Homo sapiens: one gene and its partners. The protein of the gene in region 1 interacts with the protein of each later gene in a pairwise test. Each region holds a gene or a part of one and is shown in the gene's direction. Other genes may lie near its edges.

What was found.
Region 2: the proteins of PTPRN (region 1) and CLN8 interact in a two-hybrid assay, tested with the Homo sapiens proteins (one study listed by BioGRID).
Region 3: the proteins of PTPRN (region 1) and CCDC134 interact in binary tests that used the Homo sapiens proteins (3 or more experiments, as listed by UniProt).
Region 4: the proteins of PTPRN (region 1) and PTPRS interact in binary tests that used the Homo sapiens proteins (3 or more experiments, as listed by UniProt).

The regions. Positions count from the first base shown.
Region 1 is NC_000002.12:219,292,311-219,299,658, reverse strand, and holds part of PTPRN (receptor-type tyrosine-protein phosphatase-like N isoform 1 precursor), read left to right. Parts: intron 1-274; coding exon 275-354; intron 355-547; coding exon 548-612; intron 613-1,555; coding exon 1,556-1,774; intron 1,775-2,225; coding exon 2,226-2,426; intron 2,427-2,526; coding exon 2,527-2,674; intron 2,675-2,836; coding exon 2,837-2,910; intron 2,911-3,142; coding exon 3,143-3,220; intron 3,221-3,313; coding exon 3,314-3,433; intron 3,434-4,517; coding exon 4,518-4,684; intron 4,685-5,458; exon of another isoform or gene 5,459-5,548; intron 5,549-7,348. UniProt on the Homo sapiens protein: Plays a role in vesicle-mediated secretory processes. Required for normal accumulation of secretory vesicles in hippocampus, pituitary and pancreatic islets.
Region 2 is NC_000008.11:1,773,782-1,781,129, forward strand, and holds part of CLN8 (protein CLN8), read left to right. Parts: exon of another isoform or gene 1-1,415; intron 1,416-6,468; coding exon 6,469-6,786; 3' UTR 6,787-7,348. UniProt on the Homo sapiens protein: Could play a role in cell proliferation during neuronal differentiation and in protection against cell death.
Region 3 is NC_000022.11:41,810,602-41,817,949, forward strand, and holds part of CCDC134 (coiled-coil domain-containing protein 134 isoform 1 precursor), read left to right. Parts: intron 1-2,662; coding exon 2,663-2,844; intron 2,845-3,149; coding exon 3,150-3,221; intron 3,222-7,348. UniProt on the Homo sapiens protein: Molecular adapter required to prevent protein hyperglycosylation of HSP90B1: during translation, associates with nascent HSP90B1 and the STT3A catalytic component of the OST-A complex and tethers them to a specialized translocon that forms a microenvironment for HSP90B1 folding.
Region 4 is NC_000019.10:5,218,662-5,226,009, reverse strand, and holds part of PTPRS (receptor-type tyrosine-protein phosphatase S isoform 1 precursor), read left to right. Parts: intron 1-165; coding exon 166-283; intron 284-2,712; coding exon 2,713-3,321; intron 3,322-3,789; coding exon 3,790-3,887; intron 3,888-4,756; coding exon 4,757-5,010; intron 5,011-5,656; coding exon 5,657-5,750; intron 5,751-5,855; coding exon 5,856-6,071; intron 6,072-6,542; coding exon 6,543-6,700; intron 6,701-7,211; coding exon 7,212-7,223; intron 7,224-7,348. UniProt on the Homo sapiens protein: Cell surface receptor that binds to glycosaminoglycans, including chondroitin sulfate proteoglycans and heparan sulfate proteoglycan.

The DNA.
Region 1 (7,348 bases):
AAGCAGCTTGAGCAAGGAGGTGGCTGGAGGGGCCTGCGGGAGGAAGAGCAGACAAGCTCTGAGCTCAGGGATGCTCCCAGCTGTACTGAAGGTACAGCCACACCCAGCCCGTTGCTGGCCCCACCCAGCATCTTCCTTGCCTAAGATGCCCCTGTAGGGCATCCCCGATCTGCTCCAGCCCCATCCTCTAACGGGGAGAGGGCCAGAGCTGGCCTCTTTTTTGAAGTCTGCGGTCTGGGGTGGAGAAGGCAGTAACATAGCTCCTATCTGGCAGTGTGGTGGGACCAGCCCTCACCTTCCGCATCCGGCACAATGAGCAGAACCTGTCTTTGGCTGATGTGACCCAACAAGCAGGTAAATATCTCTGCGACCTCAATCCCAGGCTTGGCCCCAGCCCCACTCCTAAGAGGATATATCCAGGCCTGTTGCTGATGCCCCCTTGAAATGTTCCCAGCCCACATGGGCCCTGCCTGCTGCTTGGCAGAGCAAGACAGAGGATGGAGACCACATGGGGCTGGAGCAAGCCTGACCTTTGTCCTCCCTGCAGGGCTGGTGAAGTCTGAACTGGAAGCACAGACAGGGCTCCAAATCTTGCAGACAGGAGTGGGACAGGTATGCGCTAACTGGAGAATCAGTCCAAGTCCCCAGAGGGCTGATGTTGTCCGCAAGAGCTGGAGGCAAACCAGAGGGGAGAACTGGAGCCGAAACGTGTCCGTAGGCACGGCTGGCTGGAGGCGGCCTTCGCCCAAGCAGCCCCTCCCCGCAGTTCTCTTTCTCACCAGCAGATGGCGTAGGTGTCCCCTCCCTGCAGGACCAGCCCTCTGTAGTAAAAAGGCCTGAGAACTAGTTGAGCCGCCCTTAGTCTGCTGGAGCGCAGTCTCCAAATTCCAAGGGAACACCTTGCACAGAAAGGACATTATACTCAAAATATGTTTTGTTTGTTTGTCTGAGACAGAGTTTCACTCTTGCTGTCCAGGCTGGAGTGCAGTGGCTCGATCTCGGCTCACTGCAACCTCCACCTGCCAGGTTCAAGCGATTCTCCTGCCTCAGCCTCCCAAGTAGCTGGGATTACAGGTGCCTGCCACCACACCCGGCTAAATTTTTTTTTGTATTTTTAGTAGAGATGGGGTTTCACCATGTTGGCCAGGCTGGTCTCGAACTCCCGATCTCAGGTGATCCGCCAACCTTTGGCCCCCCAAAGTGCTGAGATTACAGGTGTGAGCCACCACGCCCGGCCTATACTCAAAATACCTTTGTCTTCTGCATCCAACACTGATGCCTCACGTTCTACAATTCAATTCCTAGGGTTCTCTGTCCGTTTTTAAATGCAAACACTCCTGGTGGGGGCCTCTGGCACTGCACTGTGGTTGAGTTGATCCGATGGGGATTGAGAAGGAGAATCTGAGCCCATCTGGCTGTACCACCATACCCCTAATCTCCCAGCTTTGCCCCAGGAGATGTCCTAACAGGGGGTGTGGCATGGGACCGGGGTGAGGAGCAGCTCTGAAACCTCCCTATGCCACTGCCTCCCTTGATTCTAGCCTTGTTCCCACAGAGGGAGGAGGCAGCTGCAGTCCTTCCCCAAACTGCGCACAGCACCTCACCCATGCGCTCAGTGCTGCTCACTCTGGTGGCCCTGGCAGGTGTGGCTGGGCTGCTGGTGGCTCTGGCTGTGGCTCTGTGTGTGCGGCAGCATGCGCGGCAGCAAGACAAGGAGCGCCTGGCAGCCCTGGGGCCTGAGGGGGCCCATGGTGACACTACCTTTGAGTACCAGGTGTGCAGCCCCAGAAGCTGATTGAGCAAAGGAAATGCAAGGGGCCTGGGAGTCTGGGTCTTGCGTGGACTAAGGGTCGGAACTGAATGGGGAGTGAGCCCTCATCCCTGGGAAGGTCCAGTGGAGGCTGGAGAAGCCCCAGTGGGAGGGAGTATGGTAGGGGCCTTTATGAACGCATGGGAATTGGGAGCATACAGTGCCTAAGGTTCTTCTTGGTGCTGTGCTTCTGGGGCTCTGGGATTCCACTCTGTCATGTCTGAGGTTGACATAAGCACCACCCAAGCAAAACAGCCCTGGAAAGGATCAGGGCCAGGCAGAAGACCATACCCCAGAGGAGCTGAGTTCCACTGAAAATCAGTCAAGGGCAAGCCTAGGAGCCCAGAGTTGAACCCAGGGCCCTGTTGAAAAGTTTCAGGGGACTCTTGGACCTCACCTGATTCTTCCTCCACAGGACCTGTGCCGCCAGCACATGGCCACGAAGTCCTTGTTCAACCGGGCAGAGGGTCCACCGGAGCCTTCACGGGTGAGCAGTGTGTCCTCCCAGTTCAGCGACGCAGCCCAGGCCAGCCCCAGCTCCCACAGCAGCACCCCGTCCTGGTGCGAGGAGCCGGCCCAAGCCAACATGGACATCTCCACGGGACACATGATTCTGGTCAGGACAGGGCCTGGGCCCAGAGTGGGTGAAGGAATGGGATGGTGAGAGAGGCCAGGCTGGCTGTGTGGGCCAGAGCCAGACCGTGGTGCCCCCACAGGCATACATGGAGGATCACCTGCGGAACCGGGACCGCCTTGCCAAGGAGTGGCAGGCCCTCTGTGCCTACCAAGCAGAGCCAAACACCTGTGCCACCGCGCAGGGGGAGGGCAACATCAAAAAGAACCGGCATCCTGACTTCCTGCCCTGTGAGTGAACCCTGCTGGCCCACCTGGCCCAGCCCTCTCTCTGCTGCGAGGTCTGGAGGGCTTGGGGTAAGGGGTTGGGCTTCTGGCTCAGGCTGAGTGGCAGAGGTCCCGCGATGCCAATGACCAGAGGGCCATCTGGGGTGGGGTGTCGGGTCTGTGCAGATGACCATGCCCGCATAAAACTGAAGGTGGAGAGCAGCCCTTCTCGGAGCGATTACATCAACGCCAGCCCCATTGTGAGTGGCCCTGACTCCAGCCCCCACCTCTGCCCCATCATTATCCTGGCCCTATGCACTCCATTTCCCCGTGGTCACCTGCCACCCCACCAACCCCCTGGAGTGGTGGGGCCTGATATCCTAGCAAGGGGGAACTGCCAGCCTTCTCAGACCCTGACCCACTTGCTCTGACCACGCCTGTCCATAGTGGCATTTCCCACACTGGCTCATGGTGTATCTTCCCTGCCTCCAGATTGAGCATGACCCTCGGATGCCAGCCTACATAGCCACGCAGGGCCCGCTGTCCCATACCATCGCAGACTTCTGGCAGGTGGGCTCTTAAAGGGAGGGCTTCGCTGGGGTCCTTGTGGCCACGAGGTCCCAGGGAGGTTAGAGTGGAGCTCAACTGGGTCTCTGTCCCTAGATGGTGTGGGAGAGCGGCTGCACCGTCATCGTCATGCTGACCCCGCTGGTGGAGGATGGTGTCAAGCAGTGTGACCGCTACTGGCCAGATGAGGGTGCCTCCCTCTACCACGTATATGAGGTCAGCAGGGCCCCACAGCAAGGGGACAATGGATGTGGGAAGAGTAGATGATGGCCTTTTCGTAACGTTTTCTTCACCAAATGAGCACTCAACAGTCTTTTTAAAAAGGCTTTTATTGGCCCTGCTCATGATTCATACATATATGAATATATATAAACACATATATGCATACCCATATATTCACATATATACATGTGTGTGTCCTGTTTACAGAACATACATGTGTGTGTGTGTGTGTGTGTGTGTGTGTCCTGTCTAGAGTCAAAAAGCGTTCATAGAGACTTATGATAAAGGCACAGAGATCAAACTATAAAACCACCAAAACCGAGGTAAGAAGCTAACAGCTAAGTGTATATTAGACAGGGAAGATAAGGATACCCAAAGACTGAGATTAAGACCTACGTTAATTGAACCTAATTTAGCTCTGAGTTTCCTGGTGGCCAAAGCAAAGAAAGACATACCACCCGTTACATACGTTACTAATGTAAAAGAGAAACAAACTTTTTCATTAGGAGAGAGACTAGGTGGAGGGGTGGAGAAGGAGGGGGAACTGGGCAGAGGCCAAGCAGGGGAAAGAGAAATATTTCAGACAAATGGGAGAACGTGAGTCCCCACTAAGACAAAAAAACCTTAAGAACACAGCAGAAGCTTCTCATCACCAGATGAGCCTGAATAGTAATTTTTTCCCCACCAAATAAGCACATGACGGTTTTTTTAAAAAGCCTTTCATTGGTCCTGCTGGTGGTTAACGAAAAAAATCCAGTAAGAATACTACAGAATTTCATCCAAGTTTATGGCACGTGTAGCACCGATACTCTGGTAGACCCTGCGAGGAAGAGGGAGGAGAAACTCCGACCTCGAGAGGCTCACAATAGCTGTGTCTGGGTGGAAAAGCTACTAGTGGTCCTGAGCAGTAGATAAGTGACAGGCAGCCAGGGTTCCTGGGACCGCTGGAACTTAGAATTTGAACCGGCCTGGGAGGCCGGGCGGTGGTTGGAGAGACCGAGAAGGTCGCGAGGAGAGCGCGCGCAACGCGGGGACTGGGGCAGCCCGCGGCGCTCAGGCCTGGGCCCCTGCCGGGCAGGTGAACCTGGTGTCGGAGCACATCTGGTGCGAGGACTTTCTGGTGCGGAGCTTCTACCTGAAGAACGTGCAGACCCAGGAGACGCGCACGCTCACGCAGTTCCACTTCCTCAGCTGGCCGGCAGAGGGCACACCGGCCTCCACGCGGCCCCTGCTGGACTTCCGCAGGTGAGCGCGGGCGCCCCCGCCTGGAGGGACCGCATGGGCGGGGGCGGAGCCGGGGTCCGCCCGCCGCTCGGCCTGGAGCCCCGGGTCGGGCCTGGAGCCTCGGCCTCTGACTTCTGGCCGCCCGCTCCAGACCCCACGCTCCCACCCCTAAAAGCAGGCCTGAGGCTCCGGCTGTGCCCTTCCCCGAGCCTCCACCACCCGCGTGGGCCAGCTCCGCGCCGGCCGCTGCTGCTCTGCTCCCTCCCTCTCACGCTCCCGGGACTGGCTCCTTCTCCTCCACCTGCTTCCTCCAGAGGGCCCTCTGCTTTCTGTCTCCCCTCCCTCTCCAGGACCCCTGCTTCCTTTCTCCTTCCAGTTCCCTCCTGCCCCGCTGTCTCCAGGCCCTGCACTGCGCTGCCTTGCTGCCCCCTCCGTCTCTCACTCCCGCCTGCCCGTCTCCCCTCCTTCATCCCTCTCCGTCCCTCCTTCATCCCTCTCCGTCTCTTCGCCTCTTTTTTCTGTGTCTTTCATTCTTTTTCCTTTCCTCTTTCTTCCTCTTCTCTCTCCCCATCTCTCTCTCACTCTGTCTCTGCCTCACCCTTTCCCTCTCTCTCCATTTCTCCCTCTCCGCGCTTCTCTTCCTTTCTCTCTGCCCTCTCCCCTGTTTTTCTCCACCTCCTTCCCCTGTCTGCCAGTTTCTCTCTGCTGCTCTGTCCGTCTCTCCCTCTCCCTCCCGCTGCCTGTCTTTCCTCTCTCTGTCCTTCCCTCTCCCTTCTTCCCTCTTTCTCTCTCTCCCTCACAGCTGCCAGTGTCATTTTTGTGATCTGCAGCTAGTATTCTCACTCCAGTTGCATAGTCACAAAAGTGATCATTGGCAGGTGTGGCTGCTGCATGGACAGACAGGACATGTGGCCCGGGGACCACCCCGAGCTGGGAGCAAGGGGTACAGGGAAGAGGCAAAGACTGTCGAAAGGAGTGTGGGAGGATCTCTGGATTCTGGGGGGCTCAGTGGAGCAGGTGGGGACTAGACAGGGGCTACCTGAGGGACTTACCCTTTTCCAACACTGACACCAAGACAGGTCAGCCCTCCAGCGTCCCCTGCTTTTCCTAGCCCCAGACAGGTACTTGGGAAGCCCACTACCAAGGGCAGGGGCCCACCCACACTGCGCCCTTCTCCTGGTTCTCTGTCCCTTGCCAAGCTGGCCTGATGTCTCTAGGTACTGGACAGAGGAGCAGAGCTGGGGGTGGGGACATGGGTATAGTTTCTGAACCTCAGGACAGCAGTTTCTAACTGGGGTCCCTGAGGCCTGAGACACAGGCGTCTTGAAAGCAGTGCCAGGGTATCAGAGCTATTTCCTTTTTTCCATATTTAAAAAATCCTGGTAGAACTAGTGCATGGATCTGTTTTAAAGCTGCACAGATAAGCTAAAAGATTGCTTTAGGCTGGAATTATGTAAACTCAGTTGGCATTAGACATCCAGAACAAATAAACTGTTGCTTAAGAAATGCAGTTCGGGGCCGGGCGCGGTGGTTCACACCTGTAATCCCAGCACTTTGGGAGGCCGAGGTGGGTGGATCACTTGAGATCAGGAGTTCAAGACCAGACTGGCCAACATGGTCAAACCCTGTTCTGCCAAAAATACAAAAATTAGCCAGGCAGGGTGGCGAGCGCCTGTACTCCCAGCTACTCGGGAGGCTGAGGCAGGAGAATCTCTTAAACCTGGGAGGCAGCAGTTGCAGTGAGACGAGACCGTGCCACTGTACTGCCACTTGGGCAACAGAGCCAGACTCCCTCTCAAAATAAATAAATAAATAAATAAATAAATAAATGCAGTTTGGTCAAGCCCCCCTAGAAGGAAAACAAATTAATAAAAGAGACCCTAAGAAAGTGACCCTGAGTAAGTTCCTTGGCTTCCCTCCATTCCGCTACCTGTGAGATGGGGATGATTACACATACTTTAGAGCAGAGGTTCCCAACCTTTTTGGCACAAGGGACCGGTTTTGTGGAAGACAATTTTTCCACGGCTGGGAGAGGGGGTGGTTTGAGGATGAAACTGTTCCCCCTCAGATCATCAGGCATTAGATTCTCATAAGGAGCTCACAACCTAGATCCCTCACATGTGCAGGTCACGATAGGGTTCGCACTTCTGTGAGAATCTATTGCAATGGCTGATCTAACAGGAGGCGGAGCTCAGGTGGTAATGTTCGCTTGCCTCCTGCTATGCGGCTCGGTTCCCAACAGGCCATAGACTGACACTGGTCCATGGCCCAGGGATTGGGGACCCCTGCTTTAGAGGGCTGTTGCAAGATTTGATAAAGTATGTAAAATCTAGTGTAAGTGCCTGATACATAGCAAGGGCTCCGTTAATTCTAGATGCTGCCTATTATCATTATTAAATGAGCAAAAACAACTATTGTGATTACTCTTCTACCCTAGCCCTCTGACGTAACAGCCAATGAGCTAGAAAACCATGTGGACTCCTATGAAGCCATTCTAAGTCACCTGGTCCTATAGCTGAAGGACTGTGAAGTTCCAAACTTCAATCTGACAACCCCTAAGAAGGTCTTCCCTGGTTCTGGCTTGCAGGGATATCAGGAGTATGCAGGTGACTCCCAAAGCAGAAAGGTCATAAAGGACAAGGGCAGGTTAGATGGGTCCATTGAGAGACGGAGAAGCCCCCTGCT
Region 2 (7,348 bases), on another chromosome or scaffold:
GAAACACCGGACTTCAGGAGTCACTCGGCTGTGGCAGAAAATAAAGTTCTTGAAAGGAAAGCAGAGGCGCTCACTCACATCGATGCCCTAAACATCAATACCACATCAATGTCCCAAGTGGTAAATAGTGACTAAATTATTAATACATCCCACAAGATGGTGTGCTTGAGGTCATTAGTGTATTTTGAGAAATAGATTAATAGTTATCTTGTATTTTATTTTTATTACAAGTTCTTTAAAAACAACAAGAAAGACGTGAGTCTTTCTGTCTCTCCAGTCCTCAGGGGAAAGCAGTGTTGGATTTCTCCAGGGTTTTATCTGTGCTTCTCCTGGAGCCAGGTGTGGGGACAGCGTCTCCAGCAGTTCTCCCTCCCCTGGTGTGGTGGTGGAGCCCAGCCTCCAGGAGGACAGACTCAGCGAGATTTTATTTTGAAGTTTGCACATTCTCTAAAGCTTTTAGGGTGCTGTTTGTGTAGAATGGAGAAAGGGTTATTTAAGTATTTACTTCTAACCCTGCTCATGTTAACTGTATAAAGCCAACAGACCCTAATAAGAGAAAATTATAACCTAAATTAATATAGCTCAGGGCCAGTATGTCTACATAGTTCTATTTTGCTCTAGTTGAAATACTAATAAATGCAGTAAGAAAACACTATGTCTAAAATGTTGAAATTCTTTGAAATTCTTTTAAAGCTGATAGATTCTTGCATAGTAGTAGGGCATGAGGATTCAACATTTCTCCCCCATCAAGGTCTGATTTGATCAGAACTAAAGGATGTAAAGACAAAATATTACCATCAATTTAGGATGGGGGTCTAAGTCAAGCACAGTGGCTTATTCTTCGTATTTCTGTCTTAGATTTGGTTCTACTATTTATCCACAGACTCACTAGTTCATAATACAAATGAGGTGATATAAAAGCACTGTCAGGCCAAGTGCGGTGGCTCACACCTGTAATCCCAGCACTTTGGGAGGCCAAGGCAGGCAGATCACTTGAGCCCGGGAGCTCAAGACCAGCAACATGGCAAAACCTCGTCTCCACAAAAAATACAAACATTAACTGGTCATAGTGGCACACGTCTGTAGTACCAGCCAATTGGGAGGCTAAGGTGGGAGGATCGCCTGGGAGTTCAAGGTTACAGTGAGCTGTGATTACGCCACTGCACTCCAGCCTGGGCAAGAGTGAGACCCTATCTCAAACAAAAACACAACCCGCTGTCAGTTTTTATATATTTTGTATATATACATGTGTGTGTATATATATGTATGTATACAGTCGACCTTCTGTATCCATGGGTTCTGTGTCTGGATTCAACCAACTGTGGATCAAAAATATTTGGGAAAAATTTAAAATAATATAACAATAAAAAATATAACAAATAAATACCAATAAAATGTAACAATTTTATATAGCATTTACATTGTATTAGGTATTATAAGTAATCTACAGATGATTTAAGGAGTAAGGGACAGTGTGCTTAGGTTATATGCACATACAAAGCCATTTTATATAAGGGACTTGAGCATCCGTGGCTTTGGGTATCTGCAGGGAGCCCAGGAACCAGTCCCCCAAGGATACTGAGGGTGACTGTATATTTAAGTATAGATGTAACTGCCGGGCTCCAGAGCTTTGCATGTGTTATGTCACAGATTTTGTTCCTGTAGATTTTGCTACTCTTCTCAAAGCCTTTGGTGACTTTGACTACAAAAATTTTAGTGCCTTAGTAAAACCAAAGAACTCTTCGGTTCTCAAGCTTTGAGTTTTCTAAACTTAAGGTAGTGATTGCATTCTGATATTACTATTGGTAATTTAAGATGACTACTTTCAGTAAGTGAGGAAAATGGTGGAGGAGAACTTTTTGTGAATTGTGAGGGAATGGTGAGTGAATAAAGACTGAGCTCGCGAGAGTCTGGGGCTGAGTGCACAGTGTACTGTACAGTTCATCACTGTGTGGGGCCTTCCAGCTACTGTAGAGGATTCTGATGTTCAGAACATCGACTCTTCAGTGTTTTGTCTTCAGACACACACTCTTTTCACTCCTGTTGATACTGTACGCTCTCTTGAGGAGCAATGAGCACTCTTGCAGGCCCTGTGCCAGGTGCCGGGTCATAACAAAGACGATTCTCAGTCTTCCGTAAGTGGGAATCTGTGGGAGGCACATATGCATGTGGTGCGGCACACACGACAGAAGATTCTGGAAGCTGAATCTGTGAGGGGCACACGTGTGTGGTGGTGCTCCAGCACACACGATAGAAGATTCTGCAAGCTGAGTCTGTGAGGGGCACACGTGGGTGGTGGTGCTCCACACACATGATGACAGAAGATTCTGGAAGCTGGAATCTGTGAGGGGCACACATGCGTGGCAGTGCCCCGGCACACAAATGATGACAAAAGATTTTGGAAGCTGGAATCTGTCAGGGGGATACTTGCATGTGACTGTGCTTCTGTTCACAGAGAAGGTTCTGGAAGCTGGAATCTGTGAGGGGCAGCTGTATGTGTGGTAATGCTCCAGTACACATGTGATGACAGAAGGTTCTGGAAGGTGAACTCTGTGAGGGTTGGGTATGCATGTGGCCCCGCTCCTGTACACACACATGTGATAACAGAAGGTTCTGGAAGGTGAAATCTGTGAGGGTTGGATATGCATGTGGCCCTGCTCCAATATACACACATGATGATAGAAGGTTCTGGAAGGTGAAATCTGTGCGGGCAGATGTGTGTGTGGCCTTGCTCCAGTACACACACACACGTGATGACAGAAGGTTCTGGAATCTGGACTCTGTGAGGGGCGCACGTTTGTGTAGCGATGCTGCAGTCCATTGCGTGGCAGAAGGAGCATTGTCTTTCCTTTGGTTTTTGTCAGCTCTTTGTTTACTTGATAAATGCTTGAGTGTCTTCAGTTTGATAACTAGCAAAGGAAAACAGCGTGTGAGACTTCTGGTGTCCTTGCGGCTCCATGCATAGGTCTGTGCCTGACTGCAGTGCACCCACATGTTCACTCGAACAGGGGTACTTGGATTGTCTTAGCCACGCTGTTCATTTGGCCTCAGACTGAGTCCTACTGAAGTCCCATCATCAGTGGAAAGGGCTTGTGAGCTGAGTTTGTCCACGCAGCAGAAGGGTGGGCAGCAGTCTGGATGGTTTACACAGACACGGTGAGAGACGTTACCCGGACGCAAAAGAGTACACAGCGTGTGATACCGTTCCATGTACAGTCATACGTTGCTTAACGACGGGCTGTGTTCTGAGAAATGTGTCCTTAGGCTATTTTGTCATCGAGTGGCCGTCATAGAGTACCTTTCTACATGTCTAAGCCAACTCCACACTCGGCTCTATGCGACAAAGCCCATTGTTCCCAGGCTGCATACCTGTACAGCATATGGCTGTACTGAATACTGTAGGCAAGTGTAACACAACTGTAAATATTTGTGTATCTAAACATACCTAAACATAGAAAGGTATAGTAAAAATACCATGTTAAAGATGAAAAATGGCACACCTGTGCAGGGCGTTCACTGGGAATGGAGCTTGCAGGACTGGAAGCTGCTCTGCGAGAGTCACAATGAGTGGTGAGTGTGAGGGCCTAGAACGTCACTGTACTCTCCTATAGACTTTATGAACTCTGTGTACTTAAGCAATGCTAAATTTATATAAAAAAATTTCTTTAATCATAAAGTAACCTTAACTTACTGTAACATTTTTACTTTATAAATTTTTAATTTTTTAAACTTTTCCACTCTTTTGTAATAACACTTAGCTTAAAACACAAATACATTGTGTGTATATATATATATTCTTTATACCCTTATTCTGTAAGCTTTTCTTAATTTTCGAAACTTTTTTTTAAATTGTTGAAATCTAAGATGCAAATACACATTCATCCAGCCCTGCACAGGGTCAGGATCATCCATATCACTGTCTTCCACCTCCACACCTTGTCCCACTGGAGAGACTTCAGGGGCAGTAACAGACATGGGGCTGCTACCTCCTATGGTGACAGTGCCTTCTTCTGGACCCTCCTGAAAGACCTGCCTGGGGCTGTTTATAGTTAACTTTATTTTCATCAGAGAAGGAGTACACTCCAAGATAATGATAAAAAGTATAGTATAGTAAAATAGTAAATGATAGGAATTGTTCAGCTCCATTATAATCTTGTGTGGAACCACTGTCTATACACTGTGCGTTGTTGACTGAAATAAAGGCGCTGAGCCCTGGGCACTGCTGTAGGTGCAGTTGTCCAGCCTCACCTGGGTGTGGGCCCACCTGGTACTGCCGCTATGGGTCTGAGGGAGGTGTGAGATCGAAAACTTGCCTGTGCCAAAGTCCAGCATTGTCCTTCACCACTTATGGACCTGGTGGTTGTGGCCAGTTGTCAGAGTGACTATACTGTTTACCACCCAGACAAGGATGTCAGGGACTGCCCCAGGCAAACCAGGATCTGCAGTCACCCCAGGGTCTGAGAACCAGCTATATTTGTGACTTTTGCTTTGGACATATCAAAAACCTCCAAGAACTTGTAGCCTAACTCTATAATTTCACAAGTAAGAAATAAGTTATAGTATTAACTCTTCACATTTCATTTCAATCCCATGTCACTTAACCATCCGGAACTGACAGCCATAGGTTCTTCTGGTCTGTGGGTTTCTCCCCTGTCCCATTCAGTTTGGAGGCTCCAGGCTTGTTTTGGATCCTGCTTCCTCTGCTCTTCTTCCTGAGTGTTCACTGTGCCTCAGCAATGCTGAGTGCGGTGAAGCATGTGGTCCTGGCCCACCTTGAGGTGGCCCCAACCACAGGTGGGAGTGTTTCATTTGCACCTGGGGTTGGGGTGAACTAAGTGCTTGGTATGTTTGTGGAAAGCCGCACTGGCGGTCTCTGAAGGCGTGTGTGTGCATGAGGGTGCCGTGATGCACATGCGAGAGCCCTGAGGTCCCCTCTGAGACCTGGGAAGGACTCCCGTGACAGTTGTATGAGGCAGGCTGGGTTACTCCATTCCGCTGGCCTTTCTCTTCTAATTGTCCTCACATTAATTTTTTCAGTCCAGACTTAGAATAGATGCTCTTTGACTCAGGATGGGGTTACATCCCAATAAGCCCACCATAAGTTAAAAATATTGTGTCAGAAATGTGCAGCCTCCCGAACATCATGGTATATAGCCTGGCCTGCCTTTAACATGCCCAGAAGACTTGGATCAGCCTACGTTTGAGCAAAATCATATAGCACAAAGCCTGTTTTACAACAGAATGCTGAACAGCTCATGTAATTCAGTGAATGCTCTACTGAAAGTTGAAACAATGGTTGTGTGGGTACTTGAAGTACAGTTTCTACTGAGTGTGTATCATCTTTGCACCATAAAATCAAACAATTGTAAGTCAAACCATTGTGAGTAGGGGACTGTCTATAACAGCTAATATACCTGGGGCTTTAAATATTCAAAAACACCAGAAGAACGTGTTAGAATTTTTTATTTTATTTTATTTTTTTGAGACAGTCTTGCTCTTTCTCCAGACTAGATTGCAGTGGCACGATCTCAGCTCAGTGCAGTCTCTGCCTCCCAGGTTCAAATGATTCTCATGACTCAGCTTCCCAAATTAGCTGGGATTACATGGTGCGCCACCATGCCTGGCTAATTTTTTTGTATTTTTATTAGAAATGGGGCTTCGCCATGTTGGCCAGGCTGGTCTCAAACTTCTGACTTCAAGTGATCTACCCACTTCGGCCTCCCAAAGTGCTGGGATTATAGGCGTGAGCCACCGTGCCTGGCCCAAGTTAGAATATTTTGCCGGGGAGGTATACTGTATTAGTCAGCTCAGGCTGCCACAGCAGACTGCCATAGACTAGGCAGCTGGAATAGCAGAAATTCCTTTCTCACAGTTTTGGAGGCTGCAAGTCTGAGATCAAGGCACCAGCAGATTCATGTCTGGTGAAGACCCACTTCCTGGTTTACATGGCCACCTTCTGGCTGTGTCCTAGCATGGAGGAGGGGAAGGCTCTGGTCTCTTTCTCTTCTTATGACACTAATCTCATCATGGGGCCTTACCCCCATGACCTCATCACTTCCCAGGGTCTAGGTATGGGAGCTTGATATACCTGTGTCTGGTTTTGCCAAATAAGTATTGTTTATTTACTTAATATGAGAAAATTCAAGATAAAACAAAGATTGAAGGGATACTGAAAGAAAGGTTGAATTTATCATAGCTTTAGGGAGCAGAAGCCAAAGAGCAAGAGGAGCAGGAAAACAGCATGAGCGGGCAAGGGTCAGCCCTGCTGGCCCAGGTGCGCCCACAGAGCTGGTGGCCTCCTTTCAGAATGAAGTCCCAATGAGAGCAGAGCCCTGGGGAGGAAATTCTTTTGCTTTGAAATGAATTTGTTTTGTTTGGTAAGTAAGGTAGCAAATACCTTTTTGTGATGTGAAGAATGAATTTTGGCAGTTTCGCATTGACTTGTGCATTTGTCTTCTCTCCATGCAGGCGGGCTGGTCCGAGTCTCTGTTTTGGAAGCTCAACCAGTGGCTGATGATTCACATGTTTCACTGCCGCATGGTTCTAACCTACCACATGTGGTGGGTGTGTTTCTGGCACTGGGACGGCCTGGTCAGCAGCCTGTATCTGCCTCATTTGACACTGTTCCTTGTCGGACTGGCTCTGCTTACGCTAATCATTAATCCATATTGGACCCATAAGAAGACTCAGCAGCTTCTCAATCCGGTGGACTGGAACTTCGCACAGCCAGAAGCCAAGAGCAGGCCAGAAGGCAACGGGCAGCTGCTGCGGAAGAAGAGGCCATAGCTGCTCCAGCCGGGGCTCCGGGGCGGCAGCAGAGCTGGCACACCGATTCTGGGAAGCCCCGCGAATGATGGCTTTTGAATTAATGAGGCAGTGAATGTTTTGTGTTTACTTCTAAGGGAAATACTAACTTTCTTTCGCATTAGTATTAATTTTGAAGTAGCTACAAAGTATTTTTAAGAAATTATAATTTTATGACTGTCTGGCAGGCTCTGTCAGTTTAGCCGCGCCGGACCGTGTCAAGCATCTAGGAGAGGAGTCCATGGTGTCCAGGCATCGGGGCGTCACACCTGTTGAGGAGTGGGGTGGCTTTGAATGCTGGAAATGGCTTCATAGTGAAGTGCCTCCCACAGGGCGGGTGGGTCAGCGTTGACTCTTTCCAGCTGCACACTCATATGCCGTGTGTCTTATTCAGAAGTCACATTCTTTTCAGTTGGAGAGAATTGGGCTAAGATAGAAAATAACATGATTTGTTCCTTATTAAAGCTTCCCAGCGTATGAAATTCTAAGCTGGGTGGGGTGGCTCACACCCGACGTAATCCCAGCACGTTGGGAGGCCGAGGCA
Region 3 (7,348 bases), on another chromosome or scaffold:
TCTCCTGCCTCAGCCTCCCAAGTAGCTGGGACTACAGGCACATGCCGCCACACCCAGCTAGTTTTTGTATTCTTAATAGAGACGAGGTTTCACCATGTTGGCCAGGATGGTCTCGATCTCTTGACCTCATGATCCGCCCACCTCGGCCTCCCAAAGCGCTGGGATTACAGGCGAGAGCCACTGCACCCGGCCACAATAGCATTTCTTAGATTACACTGAGAGGATGCGGACAGCTCTTATATATTAAATAGTAGATACTTTACAACCATGAACTCAAATCTCCACCATAACTCTGGGGGAAGACACTGTTCTCTCTACTTTCTATATGAAAGAGGACAAGTGATTTGCCTTGGCTCTTCCCTCTGAATCAGGCTGACTTCCTGAGTTCTTTGAGGTTCAAGATTATTCTGAAGCCCCGGGGTCCCTGCCTGACATGTCTCAGACCCACCCTGGCATATCTTTGGAGTCTACTTATCTTTCTGCGTGGCCTCTTAGTGCTGGTGAGGGCTGCCTGGGCCCTTTCTGACAGGCTGGCTCCAATAGGGACTGCTTAGACCTGTTTACACAGTTACACTTTTGGCTAACCTGGATCTGGGGGACTTGCTACCATGATGGACACATGTTCCTTGGTGAGCAGGTCTGTGCAAACCTACCCTCCAAGGCCAAGGGAGCTGAGAGCGCCAGTTTCTCAGAAAGAAACATTTATTAGGGACTTCTGAACAGAACCATGTCTCAGGCAGAAATGAGATGGTGGTCTCTACACCCAACCTCCAGAAAGTATTCTTTACTTGTTGTTTTGCAGACGACAATGCTTGTACAGAAACTATTCTTTTCTTTTTTTTCTTTTGAGACAGTCTTACTCCATCACCCAGGCTGGAGTGCAGTGACACAATCTCAGTTCACTGCAACCTCTGCCTCCCAGGTTCAAGTGATTCTTGTGCCTCAGCCTCCCGAGTAGCTGGAATTAGAGACATGCGCCCCCAGGCCCGGCTAATTTTTGTATTTTTAGTAGAGATGGGGTTTTGCCATGTTGGCCGGGCTGGTCTCGAACTTTTGATGTCAAGTGATCTACCCGCCATGTGGACTCCCAAAGTGCTGGGATTACAGGGGTGAGTTACCACACCCGGCCAAAAGTATTGTTTATACAGCAAGCTTTTAGGTTAAAACATGCAGCTGGTGACATCTCAGGCTTTCGTGTGAAACTTGTGACCACTGGGGAAGTTAAATAATCATCTTTTTGAGGGGTTATCTATGCTACCGGCATTGTTTAAAGACCTTGCTGCAGAATACCTTGGTGTGCACGGGTCAAACCTCAGCCATTATGGCTTCAAGATGGTGCCACGCTTGTCTTGCAGCAGGCTGTTTTCCTACAGCACACTAACAAAGCTCAGTCTAAATTGACCTGTTGACCAGTAGAAGCACATTAGTAGGAAAACAGAAAATTCAAATTAAGTCTGTTAGGTTAGTTGGTAGTATTGTATTGCTGTTAATTTCCTGGTTTAGATAGTTGTATGTTGGTTATATAAGATGACAACACTAGGCCAAGCAGGTGGCTTACTCCTGTAATCCCAGCACTTTGGGAAGCCGAGGCAGGCGGATTACTTGAGTTCGAGTTTGAGACCAGCCTGGCCAAACACGGTGAAACCCCATCTCTACCAAAAATATAAAAAAGTAGCCGGGTGTGGTGGCATGCACCTGTAATCCCAGCTACTCGGGAGGCTGAGGCAGGAGAATCACTTGAACCCGCGAGGCGGAGGTTGCAGTGAGCCAAAATCATGCCACTGCACTCCAGCCTGGACAAGAAAGCGAGACTCCGTCTCCAAAAAAAAAAAAAAAAAAAAAAGGATGGTAACATTAGAGGAAGCCAAGTGAATGAATTTTATGTTATGTTATGTTAAGTCCAAGATAATTTCAGGCCGAGTGCAGTGGCTCATGCCTATAATCCCAGAGCTTTAGAAGGCCGAGGTAGGAGGATCACTTGAGGCCAGGAGTTTGAGATCAGCCTGGGCAACAAAGTGAGACCTCACCTCTAAAGTAATTAATTAATTAATTAAATATATTCATTCATTCATTCAAAATAAGAACTTAAGCACTTAAAATGAAATAAAATGGAAAGAATATTAAAAAAGAAAAATGCTGGCCTGTTGTGTGGCCATCCTAAGATACCTGAGGTCTCACAGACACTCTAGTTGTGTTAACACCAGGGCCAGCACTGGACATTTGGATAACATGTCGGTGGGGGGGTCAAGCCCAGTAAAGTCTCATGTGATACATCAGCATCTGTGTGCAGAACAACACTCACTTCTCTGGTCCCCACAGCAAATGTGTCTTCTAAGCAGCAAGATGTGCCTTTGGGCTGACGGACCTGGGTTTGCAGCCCAGATTTGCTACTCACTAGCTGCTGAGCCTCAGTTTCCCATCTGTAAAATGGGAACAGCAGCCACATCTCCCTCTAAAAGTGGTTATGAGGACTCAGTGAGCTGGTGGATGTAAGGCCCTAGTTCGCACTGTACATGTGATTGGCAGCCTGTGGTCAGTAGGCACTGTTCCTTCCTTGCTTGGTGGGTTTGGTGGATGTCTCTGTTCTCTAGAGGATGCCAGGGGCCAGTGAGGCAGCCAGGAGAGCATCTGCCCTGGCCACTCATCAGGGTCCTCTCGCCAGCTTTCTCCCACGTGGTGGAGAACACGGCCTTCTTCGGCGATGTGGTGCTGCGCTTCCCGAGGATTGTGCACTATTACTTTGACCACAACTCCAACTGGAACCTCCTCATCCGCTGGGGTATCAGTTTCTGCAACCAGACAGGCGTCTTCAACCAGGGGCCCCACTCGCCCATCCTCAGCCTGGTAAGGACTGGGGTGGAGGTGGCCCGGGAGCCCTCTGTCGGGTAGTGGACTAGGATCCTCACATCTGCCTTCAGTTGGGCCTGAACGTCAGTGCTTGGTTACATTTTCTTTGTGGAGCTTCAGGGTATCTTGGGCCACAGAGGCCCCATTTCAAGGGATTCTGTGCTGACCCAGTTCCCATGGGATCATCATGTGGCCCACATCTGCCCAAGTCAGGAGTCTGGGTCCCAGCATGGAAGGAATGACTCTCTGGTGAGCAGGACTCAGGAGAAGGCAGATGATGACTAGTGTTTCTTCATCTGCAGATGGCCCAGGAGCTGGGGATCAGTGAGAAAGACTCCAACTTCCAGAACCCATTTAAAATCGACCGCACAGAGGTGAGCTGCCAGGGCCTATGCCTGTGTCTGCTTTGCCTCTGCTGGGCCATAGGACACCGAGGCCTGCAGGGGCTGGGGACCTTGGGTGGCTTTGGACTTGGAGCCAGGCAGCCTGGGCCTGGGTCCAGAAGATATCACTGACTCATTGGAGCCTGTGGGCAAGTCATTGCTCCCCTCTTAGCCTCAGGCTCCCTGTCTGTTCACAGCATGTGAACTCCAGTTATGGGGGGTAGTTAGGAGGCTATGAACAAACCCATCCCAGCACAAAATAGGCATCCCACTTCAGGTGGATATCAGGGTAGCTAGGGAGATCAGGCCATGCTCTTCCCTGCCTTTGAACCTCTGAGCACCAACTGGGCTTCCATCCCGCACTCCTGTACATGCTCTCATTCCAGGGGTTCCAGGGGGCTGAGGTGGGCTTTGAGAGCTGGAGACCAAGTTTGGGATAAAAGATGAGGACAGGCCGGGCACGGTGGCTCACATCTGTAATTCCAGCACTTTGGGAGGCCGAGGCGGGTGGATCACCTGAGGTCAGGAGTTCGAGACTAGCCTGGCCAATATGGTGAAACTCTGTCTTTACTAAAAATACAAAAAACTGGCCAGGCGTGGTGGTGCATGCCTGTAATCCTAGCTATTCAGGAGACTGAGGCAGGAGAATCGCTTGAACCCGGAAAGTGGAGGTTGCAGTGAGCTGAGATCGTGCCATTGCACTCCAGCCTGGGCAACATGAGTGAAACTCCGTATCAAAAAAAAAAAAGGGGGGACAGATACGATAGATGGAGGAAGGGATTGGAAGTGACAGGGCTAGGAGGGGCAGGAAGGAAGGGCTGTGGTGGCTGGAGGACTGGACTTGTCAAACCCTGGTGTCGGGAGGGGTGTTGGGTGTCTCAAGGGTCTAGGATTTAATTCTGCCTCCAGGCCAACAAGCTAGCCTGCTACTGTTTCATGGACACTGATAGGTCAGAGACATTGGACTGTATTACAGCAAAGGCACTAGCTAGACTGTTGGCCTGGTTGTGTTGGTTCATCTTGTTCCCTAACTCCCACGGAGGTGACACAGAGGGGCCAGGTGGGCGCTGTGCATGCAGGGGGTGTGCATCATAGCTGAGAACTGCCAAGCTGGAGAAATTCATGATTTTTATAGTGAACCGCAGCAAATGTGCTCTTTGGGAAGAGACATCACCACACCGTTCGAGGTTGCTCTCTGCAAACACAATCCTAAGACATGGCCCAGGTAAAGAGTGGTTAGGGCTTTGTATCTTTGGTGTGCCCTGCAAGAATATGCAGGGATGCTCAGGGCCATGATGGATTGCCACCCCAACAGTCTGCCCCAAGCCCAAGCCCTCCATGGCTTGGTTTAACTCAAATTTTCTTTTCTTTTCTTTTTTTTTTTTTTTTTTTGAGATGTAGTCTCGTTCTGTCGCCCAGGCTGGAGTACAGTGGCGCGATCTCGGCTCACTGCAAGTTCTGCCTCCTGGGTTCACGCCATTCTCCTGCCTCAGCCTCCCCAGTAGCTGGGACTACAGGCGCCCGCCACCACACCTGGCTAATTTTTTGTATTTTTAGTAGAGACGGGGTTTCACCATGTTAGCCAGGATGGTCTTGATCTCCTGACCGCGTGATCCACCCGCCTCGGCCTCCCAAAGTGCTTGGATTACAAGCGTGAGCCACCGCACCCGGCCTAACTCAAATTTTCACACGAATGTGCTATTCAGTCTGATTGATCTGACTGATAGAGGCTAGGACCAAATCTGTCAATTAGTCTCATACTTCATTTAATTAAGATTACTATCAACTATATTCTGAATAGCAGGGTAAGGCCAACCTACATTATTATTATTTTTTTTATAGACAGGGTCTTGCTCTGTCACCCAAGCTCTGTCACCCACCTAGCTTACTGTAACCTTGAACTCCTGGGCTCAAACAGACCTCCCACCTCAGCCTCCTGAGTAGCTGGGACGACAGGCCTGTGCGACACCATTCCTGGCTAATTAATTTATTATTTTTTTCAGAGACAGGTTCTTGCTGTGCTGCCTAGGGTGATCTCAAACTCCTGGGCTCAAGCCATCTTCCTGTCTCAGCCTCCCAAAGTGTTGGGATTATAGGTGTGAGTCACTGTGTCTGGCCCCTAACCTGCAATATTGAACAGGGTCCTGGACTCAACCAGCTGTGAAGGTCCTGGAGGACCAGTAAGTCTCATTTTGGATAATCAGGATATTGTCTAAGACCAATCTGTTATCCACGACCACCCACATAAGAGAGTTTAGATTGACCTGCCAATCTTTGATGTTACTGCCAATAAGTACAGGGGGCAATAGATGGACCCAAGCAACCCTCATGCCCCCATAAGGAGACATTCCATGACCCATTCTCTCCCACATGTTACGCTTGATTTGAGTCACCAGAACAATGTTTAGTTGAGCCTGAGGGCAGTGTCACTGTGGAGCTTCAGCCTCAGTTGCCTACATGGTATAATCCAAGGCTACTCAGACATCAGGAAAAGCAGATGAATTTGTATCTGTCAGGTTGAAACAAAATTGTGCTGGCTGGTGTGTCTGCACAAGGTCACTGTTGAGAACTACCTTTGATGGCATTAGACACAGCAGAATAGCTCAGTACTGACGTGTCCATGTGAGTTTTCCTATCATGTGGATGGAAATGAGACACCCAACAGTTGGCCATATTGACAGCTGCAGCTGCCACTGGGCTTGGGCAGACCCTAGGATTGTTTTGCCAGGTGGCAGTGATGGATCTAAGGGATAAAGAGAACATTAATTGTTCCCTGCACTTTCTGGGATCTAAGGTATATCCTCCCCAGGTGGCAGGATTATTGCTATAAAATCCATGTGTCCTTGGGAGACCGAGGTGGGCGGATCATGAGGTCAGGAAAATCAAGACTATCCTGGCCAACATGGTGAAACCCCGTCTCTACTAAAAATACAAAAATTATCCGGGTGTGGTGGCGCATGCCTGGAGTCCTGGCTACTCAGGAGGCTGAGGCAGGAGAATTGCTTGAACCCAGGAGGCGGAGACTGCAGTGAGCCAAGATCGCACCACTGCACTCCAGCCTGGCGACTGAGTGAGACTGTCTCACAAAAACAAAACAAAACAAAAAGCATATGTCCTATGCCAGCATCTATAGTTTCACTTTTTCTCCAGTTGTTGCCTACTATCACTTAGATCTTTCATTCAGAAATGTCAGGTATGAATGGGACCAGGGCATTTTTACAGATGTATAGAGACCTGTTATATCTCTTCTCTTTACCCACATGGGCCACTGCAGGGAAATCAGCAAGCAGGATACTCAGCCAAGTGGTCACAATCCTAACAATCTCAGGCTGTACCATTCCAACCAGAGACTCAGGTAGTTGAACCAGAAATATACAGTCCTCTGTTTTGTGCCACTCCTTGGTAGTGGGTATGTTACCATGCCAAGTAGAATGATATGTTTAGGTGGCAGTGGCAGTGATCTGGATGAAGTAGGCTTGATCAGCAGTTTGACTCCATTTGGTCTTTTCAGAGATTGAGCTTTATGATGGGCATCTAAACGAGTGAGCCAGGCTGTCTAGTTTGTCACCACAATTTGTTTCCATAGTCTGTGGCCCTAAAGAGGGGTGAGGGGTAGGTATCGCCAGGCATGGTGGCTCACACCTGTAATCCCAGCACTTAGGGACCGAGGCAGGCGGATTGCCTGAGGTCAGAAATTTGAGACCATCCTGGCCAACATGGTGAAACCCTGTCTCTACTAAAAATACAAAAATTAGCCGGGCGAGGTGACGCATGCCTGTAGTCCCAGCTACTCGGGAGGCTGAGGCAGGAGAATCGCTTGAACCCGGGAGGCAGAGGTTGCAGTGAGGTGAGATTGCACCACTGCACTCCAGCCTGGGCAACAGAGCAAGACTCTGTCTTAAATAAATAAATAAATAAATAAATAAATAAATAAATAAAAAGAGAGGGGTAGGTATCTTTGATCTGCCAGTTTGTAATCTCCAGATGACCAGGACACTGACAATAGTCAGTAAGAATATAACATGCATGGCTGTTAGGAAGGAGTGTCATCCAAGCAAGGGTGATACCTTTTAATTCAGGCCATTGTCTGACTGGCCTTTATGGCAGTTAATCAGCCA
Region 4 (7,348 bases), on another chromosome or scaffold:
GCATGGCCATGCCACGTGTCGTGGTCTCTGCATGAGCTCATGTGCACGTCTCCACCCCTGATCCGGGCCCTGCATCCTCCTTGCTTGTTCTCAGCACGGGGAGTGGGGGTGGGTGGGGCTGCTCCCAGCCCCAGCCGTCGTGCTGACCCCCAGCCGTGCCTGCAGGAGATGGTCATCACAAACTTGCAGCCTGAGACCGCGTACTCCATCACGGTAGCCGCCTACACCATGAAGGGCGATGGCGCTCGCAGCAAACCCAAGGTGGTTGTGACCAAGGGAGCAGGTATGCAACCCGCCCTCCTCCCACCCACCAACAGCCCCTTTGCCCCCACTGGCACCAGAGCGTGACTCCAGAGTCCTTGAGCTCACAAGGGCAGGCAGAGGGTGCACCAGGCAGCTGGAACAGTGAGACAAAGGTGTGAGGGCTGCTCAGGTGGGTGTCCAGGGCCCAGCTTGGCCCCCCCCGCCCCTGCCTCCTCCTTTGTCACTCACTTCCTGTCCCCCCGGCTCCCACCAGACAGAAACAGTTAACAGCCACCTCTGACCCCTTTGCCCTCTCAACCTTTACTTGGGCTGTTCCCTCTGCCAGGATACCCCTTCCCCTGCTGGCTGGCTCCTCTTCTGCCTTTAGGTCTCAGCTCAAGGTACACCTGGCCCTGGAAAGCCTTCCCTGATTGCCTCATCCCATAATCTTGATCCTTCTGGGCCCCCTAGTCTCCTGTGCTTCCCCCATCCAGGCTCTGGTCGCCCCGGCTAGGTTGTTATTTCAGGGTGGTGCACCTGTCTTCCCCTACTGCACCAGGAAGCCACCTTTCTCTTGGTGGCCCTGCCTCAGTTTCCCCTTCTAGCCCCTCCATTGTCCCTTCCATCGTCCCCAAGGGGCTGGCTTTTTTTTCCAGCCAAAATGGAGCTGAATTAAGAAAAAGAGGCTGCCGTGAAGATGTAAGGGGAGGGTACACCGGGCGGAGGGCACAGCCCAGAAAAAGACTTGGGGGGTGGGGCGTGGTGGTGGTGGTGGTGGGCGGAACAAGCTCGGGTGTTTCAGGAACAATCGACTGACTTCTGTGGCCTTCATCCCAGTCCCCACACCCACCCTCTCCTCGGGGACCCTTGTAGCCACACCACTGTGTACCCCACCTTTCAGGCCTCCCAGCTGGACACAGCCCCTGCCCTTGTCCACACTATTCCCTTCACGCACCTTGTCTGCGTCCTCCAGCATCCAGCTCTAACGCCACCTCCTCCAAGCAGCCTCCTGTGATCTCTCCCTCCCTTCTTCTAGCCAGCAGGGCACTTCCCTCCTCTCTCAGGGACATTGTATTAGAGCTGTGTTTGCTAAGCAGAAACCACTGCATACGCTGCTCTCCCCACCACCCTGGGTATTCATAGCAGTCCATTCAAGGCCCTGATAAGTCCTGCAGTAGAGAAGTCCATTTTCATGTATACAGCCCAGCTTTCCCCCTTCTTTGCCTGATCCCAGAACCTCTCTCGGCACATTGATTACTACCCAGGCTGTGCGAAACAAAGAGCAGGGGCGGATTTTGGATTTCTTTATGTCCCATGGGTATTGGTCAGGTGCCTGCATTGAGCAAGGGCCAAATCAACAAGGCAGGAGATGGTTGCCTTATTAATGGAAGGAGGAGGGGTTCTCTGAGTCCTCACTTCCTTGCTGTGCTTTATGCGCCCCTAGCCCAGTGCCGGCTCTACACCTTTGCATGGGCCGTTCCCTCTTCCTGGAGCACGATTCCCCCAGATCTTCTCGTGGTTCCCTCTCTTTCTTCTTTCAAGTCTTTGCTTCTTAAGTGAGGCTTTCTTGAGACCTACTTTTATTTTTAAGACGGAGTCTTGCTCTGTTGCCCGGGCTGGAGTGCAGTGGCACGATCTTGGCTCCCTGCAACCTCTGCCTCCTGGGTTCAAGTGATTTTCCTGCCACAGCCTCCTGAGTAGCTGGGATTACAGGCGTGCACCACCACCCCCGGCTCATTTTTGTATTTTTAGTAGAGACAGGGTTTCACCATGTTGGCCAGGCTGGTCTCGAACTCCTGACCTGAAATGATCTGCCCATCTCAGCCTCCCAAAGTGCTGGGATTACTTACAGATGTGAGCCACCACACCCAGCCTTGAGATCCACTTTTAAAAATCACAACCCCAGGCTGGGCACGGTGGCTCACACCTGTAATCCCAGCACTTTGGGAGGCTGAGGCGGGTGGATCACCTGAGGTCAGGAGTTCAAGACCAGCCTGGCCAATATGGCGAAACCCCATCTCTACTAAAAATACAAAATTACCCAGGCGTGGTGGTGTGTACCTGTAATCCCAGCTGCTCGGGAGGCTGAGGCAGGAGAATCCCTTGAACCCGGGAGGCAGAGCTTGTAGTGAGCCGAGATGGGGCTACTGCACTTCAGCCTGGGCAACAGAGCAAGATTCTGTCTCAAAAAAAAAAAAAAAAAAAATCACAACCGCAGCTGGGTGCAGTGGCCTTATAATCCTAGCACTTTGGGAGGCCGAGGCAGGAAGCTCACTTGAGCCCAGGAGTTCGAGGCTGCAGTGAGCCGTGATCTCACCATTGCACTCCAGGCTGGGCAACAGAGTAAGACCCCCCCCAACTCAAAAAAATGTTATATTGAAGGAAAAGAATTAAAAATACAACCCCACCTTGTGCCTCTGGGCTGGCGGATGGCGCTGGGACCCTGACACCTGCCCCGTATCCCCGCAGTGCTGGGCCGCCCAACCCTGTCGGTGCAGCAGACCCCCGAGGGCAGCCTGCTGGCACGCTGGGAGCCCCCGGCTGGCACCGCGGAGGACCAGGTGCTGGGCTACCGCCTGCAGTTTGGCCGTGAGGACTCGACGCCCCTGGCCACCCTGGAGTTCCCGCCCTCCGAGGACCGCTACACGGCATCAGGCGTGCACAAGGGGGCCACGTATGTGTTCCGGCTTGCGGCCCGGAGCCGCGGCGGCCTGGGCGAGGAGGCAGCCGAGGTCCTGAGCATCCCGGAGGACACGCCCCGTGGCCACCCGCAGATTCTGGAGGCGGCCGGCAACGCCTCGGCCGGGACCGTCCTTCTCCGCTGGCTGCCACCCGTGCCCGCCGAGCGCAACGGGGCCATCGTCAAATACACGGTGGCCGTGCGGGAGGCCGGTGCCCTGGGCCCTGCCCGAGAGACTGAGCTGCCGGCAGCGGCTGAGCCGGGCGCGGAGAACGCGCTCACGCTGCAGGGCCTGAAGCCCGACACGGCCTATGACCTCCAAGTGCGAGCCCACACGCGCCGGGGCCCTGGCCCCTTCAGCCCCCCCGTCCGCTACCGGACGTTCCTGCGGGACCAAGGTAGGCGCGCGGCGACCCCTGCACCAGAGCCGGACCGGGCCTTGCGCCCACCCCCACCCCAGCCCCCTCCCTCTCCCCTGCCCAGGTAAGTGCTCACTTTTCTGCTTCCTCGTGGTCACTCAAGGCAAGTCCGGACCCCGAGGCTCCGGCGTTGGCAAAGGTGGGACGTGCCTCGGTGGCACCACCGCCCCCCACCACTGCCCCCTCCCCTTGCTCCCCTCCCCCCTCTTCCTCCTCCTCCACCTTCTTTCTGCAGCCTCTGCACCCGTGCCGTCTCCCGAAGCAGGGACTTGGGACAGGACAGGGCAGGGCCGGGCCAGGGCCAGGCAGGAAGGCCGTGGGCATGGGCACAGCGGACGACAGGGAGCGCCTGGGCCGCCCCACCCCACCCCGCTTCACGCCACCCAGTGCCAGGCACTCATGGGGCCTCTCTTCTGCTCTCTCCCTGCTCGGCCGCCTCCCCGGCAGTCTCGCCCAAGAACTTCAAGGTGAAAATGATCATGAAGACATCAGTTCTGCTCAGCTGGGAGTTCCCTGACAACTACAACTCACCCACACCCTACAAGGTGCGACTGCCCAGCCAGCAGGCAGGCAGGCAGGCAGGGTCAGGGGTTGTAGTTCAGCAGGGCTTAAGGCTCAGTTTGGAGTTGGTGTGAAGTGAGGGATCAGGGCTCAGTCAGAGATGGGTCTCAGCTAGGATTGAGGCTTAGTCAATACTGGGAATCAGACTTGGGGCCCAGCCTAGGATTGGAGATCAGCTGGAACTGAGGTTCAGTCAATATTGGGGATCAATGTTGGGCTCAGCCTTGGATTGTGGCTTAGCTGGGATTGAGGTTCAGTCTGGGATTAAGATTTAGTCCATATTGGAAATCAGAGTTGGGGCTCAGCCTTAGATCATGGCTTAGCTGGGACTGAGGCATAATCAGGATTGGGACTCAGAGTTGGTACTTAGCCTGAGGTCAGAGTTTAGTCTGGAGTTGGTGCCAAGTCTGGGATCGGGGGTCAGCCTGGGATTGAGGTTCAGTCTGAGATCAGGAATCAGTCTAGGATCAGGTCTCAGAGGTGGGTTTCCACCTAGGGTCAGCGCTCAGCTGGAATTCAGGATCAGTCTGGGTTCAGGGTTCAGTGGGATTGGGGCTCAGTCGGGACTGGGAATTCAGCATGGGATCAGGGCTCAGTCAAAGTGGGCTTCTACCTAGGATCAGGACTCAGCTGGAATTTAGGCACAGTCTGGGGTCAGGGTTCAGTGAGGTTGGGGCTCAGTCAGAGTTGGGGACTCAGCCTGGGATCAGGGATCAGTCAGTGTTAGATTTCTGCCTAGGGCAGGATTCAGTGGGATCAGGGCTCAGTCAGGGTGGGGGACTCATCCTGGAGCTGGGGCTCAGTCCATGGGCATGAGCCCACCAGGCCCTGCTGAGCTAGCCCTGGTCCGCAGATCCAGTACAATGGGCTCACACTGGATGTGGATGGCCGTACCACCAAGAAGCTCATCACGCACCTCAAGCCCCACACCTTCTACAACTTTGTGCTGACCAATCGCGGCAGCAGCCTGGGCGGCCTCCAGCAGACGGTCACCGCCTGGACTGCCTTCAACCTGCTCAACGGCAAGCCCAGCGTCGCCCCCAAGCCTGATGCTGACGGCTTCATCATGGTGTATCTTCCTGACGGCCAGAGCCCCGTGCCTGTCCAGTATGCTCACCCCCATGCTCCGGGTTCCTTGTCACCCCCATCAGCCTACTATATGGCTGGGGCAAGCCACGTGCCCTCTCTGTGCCTCAATTTCCTTGCCTATGAAACACAGACCCTATCAGCCCTAGTTCATGGGGTCATCCAAGATTCAATGCTTCTCATGGGTCATTGTCACTAAATGTGTCCTGTGTCTGCTCTTCTAGCATTTCCTGATACCCCATATGCCTGACCCTCCACTGGGTATTACTAGGGCCCCTGAAAGGATTTGGTTCTGGGCTTCCCAACTAGTGGGGAGGCAAAGCTGAGAGTCCCCAGTGGGGAGAGGAGCACTCTGCCTCAGAGGCAGAGAAGATTTAAGGGCTACAAGGTTATGTGGGCATTGAAGCTGGAGCTTTGAAGGATGTATAGGAGTTTAACAATGAGCATTACATGAAGTAAGCCTTCTACGCAGAAAGTACAGCATCATCCAAGGCCTGGAGGCCTGAGTCAGCAACTGTGGCGTTTGTGGATGGGGCATAGGGGAATAGGCTCATTGTATGAACAGAAGGGAAGACTCAGAGAAACGGCTTCCCCCGTTTGCCCCCATGAAGCATCCCTTGGTCATCCCTATCGACAGCCCCTCTGACTCTTTCCCATCTCCCTACAGGAGCTATTTCATTGTGATGGTGCCACTGCGCAAGTCTCGTGGAGGCCAATTCCTGACCCCGCTGGGTAGCCCAGAGGACATGGATCTGGAAGAGGTGAGGGCCTGGGGCCCAACCCGCAGGGCCCAGATGCATTCCAGTTTTCACGTGCTCTGTTGCTCCCAGCTGAGCTCTGAGCCACCCATGACTCTGTTCCCGCAGCTCATCCAGGACATCTCACGGCTACAGAGGCGCAGCCTGCGGCACTCGCGTCAGCTGGAGGTGCCCCGGCCCTATATTGCAGCTCGCTTCTCTGTGCTGCCACCCACGTTCCATCCCGGCGACCAGAAGCAGTATGGCGGCTTCGATAACCGGGGCCTGGAGCCCGGCCACCGCTATGTCCTCTTCGTGCTTGCCGTGCTTCAGAAGAGCGAGCCTGTAAGTCCTGAATGGTGTCCGCCCACATCCAGACACACCTCTGAATGAGGCAGACCCCATTCCCCAGGGCCCTGACCTCTGTGGTCAGTCACAGGCAGCTCCCTGTGGTCAGAGCTGGGCAGAGGGGAAGACTTGGGAGCGGAGGGATCCTGAAACGAAGGTTTCTTAGAGGAAGAGACCTTGGAGCTGGGGCGTTGAGGGGTGAGTAGGAGTTCAACAAAGAAAAAGCATCCCAGGATTTGCATGTGCAAAGGTCTGGAGGTACAGAAAGGAGAGTGGCTGGAGCAGAGAAGGGAATGGGGAGAGCAAAGATTGGCAGGGACCAGGTCACATAGGCCACCAGGGTCAAGGTTCTAGGAATATAGGAGGATCTAGAGCGGGGGAGAAACGTAGGTTCATGTTTGAGAAAGACCCATCTGGCCACTACAAGGAGGGTGGACACTGATGGAGACCCCCCTCCTTTCCCTGCAGACCTTTGCAGCCAGTCCCTTCTCAGACCCCTTCCAGCTGGATAACCCGGACCCCCAGCCCATCGTGGATGGCGAGGAGGGGCTTATCTGGGTGATCGGGCCTGTGCTGGCCGTGGTCTTCATAATCTGCATTGTCATTGCTATCCTGCTCTACAAGAAGTAAGCCCCATGTCCTCCCCGACTTGACTTGACAGCAGGGAGGGCTTCCTGGAAAAGGAGGGAGGAGTTGTCTCAGAGAATCATCACTAAAGGTCTCTGTTGTACACATGGGGAAACCGAAGTTCAGAGAGGTTAAGCCACTTGATCAAGGTCACACAGCATGGGAATGGCAGAGCTAGGGCTCAAAGCAGGCCAGTGGCTTGGCTTCTCCTCTTAACCCCTATCTTCAACTCAGCAAGATTTGGGGTAGAGGCTGCCTGTGTCCAGTTCAATGAGGATAGCAATTGTAGTGGCCCCATGGGGCACATCCCAGGGCTGAGATAAGCCTCCTTGTGGTGTCGATAGGCAGGGGGACAAACAGGAAATATGAGCACCATTTTCCAGAGGAGACCAAAGCTCACAGAGGTTAAGGAAGGCACTGAGAGTCACAGAACAAGCCCTTGATGGCCGGCACACCCTCACCTTTCTTCTTTTTTTCCCCCTTCTCACCTGTGTCTGCTTTCGGGAACAGCAAACCCGACAGGTAAGAACCAGCCCTCCCCCGTGGAGGCTTCAGGCAAGAGGAAGAGGACAGGGAATGGGCTGATAGTGTGCCCACAGGAGAGGGGATGCCCGGCTGCCCCCACAGCTTGTACACGTAGCTGTACT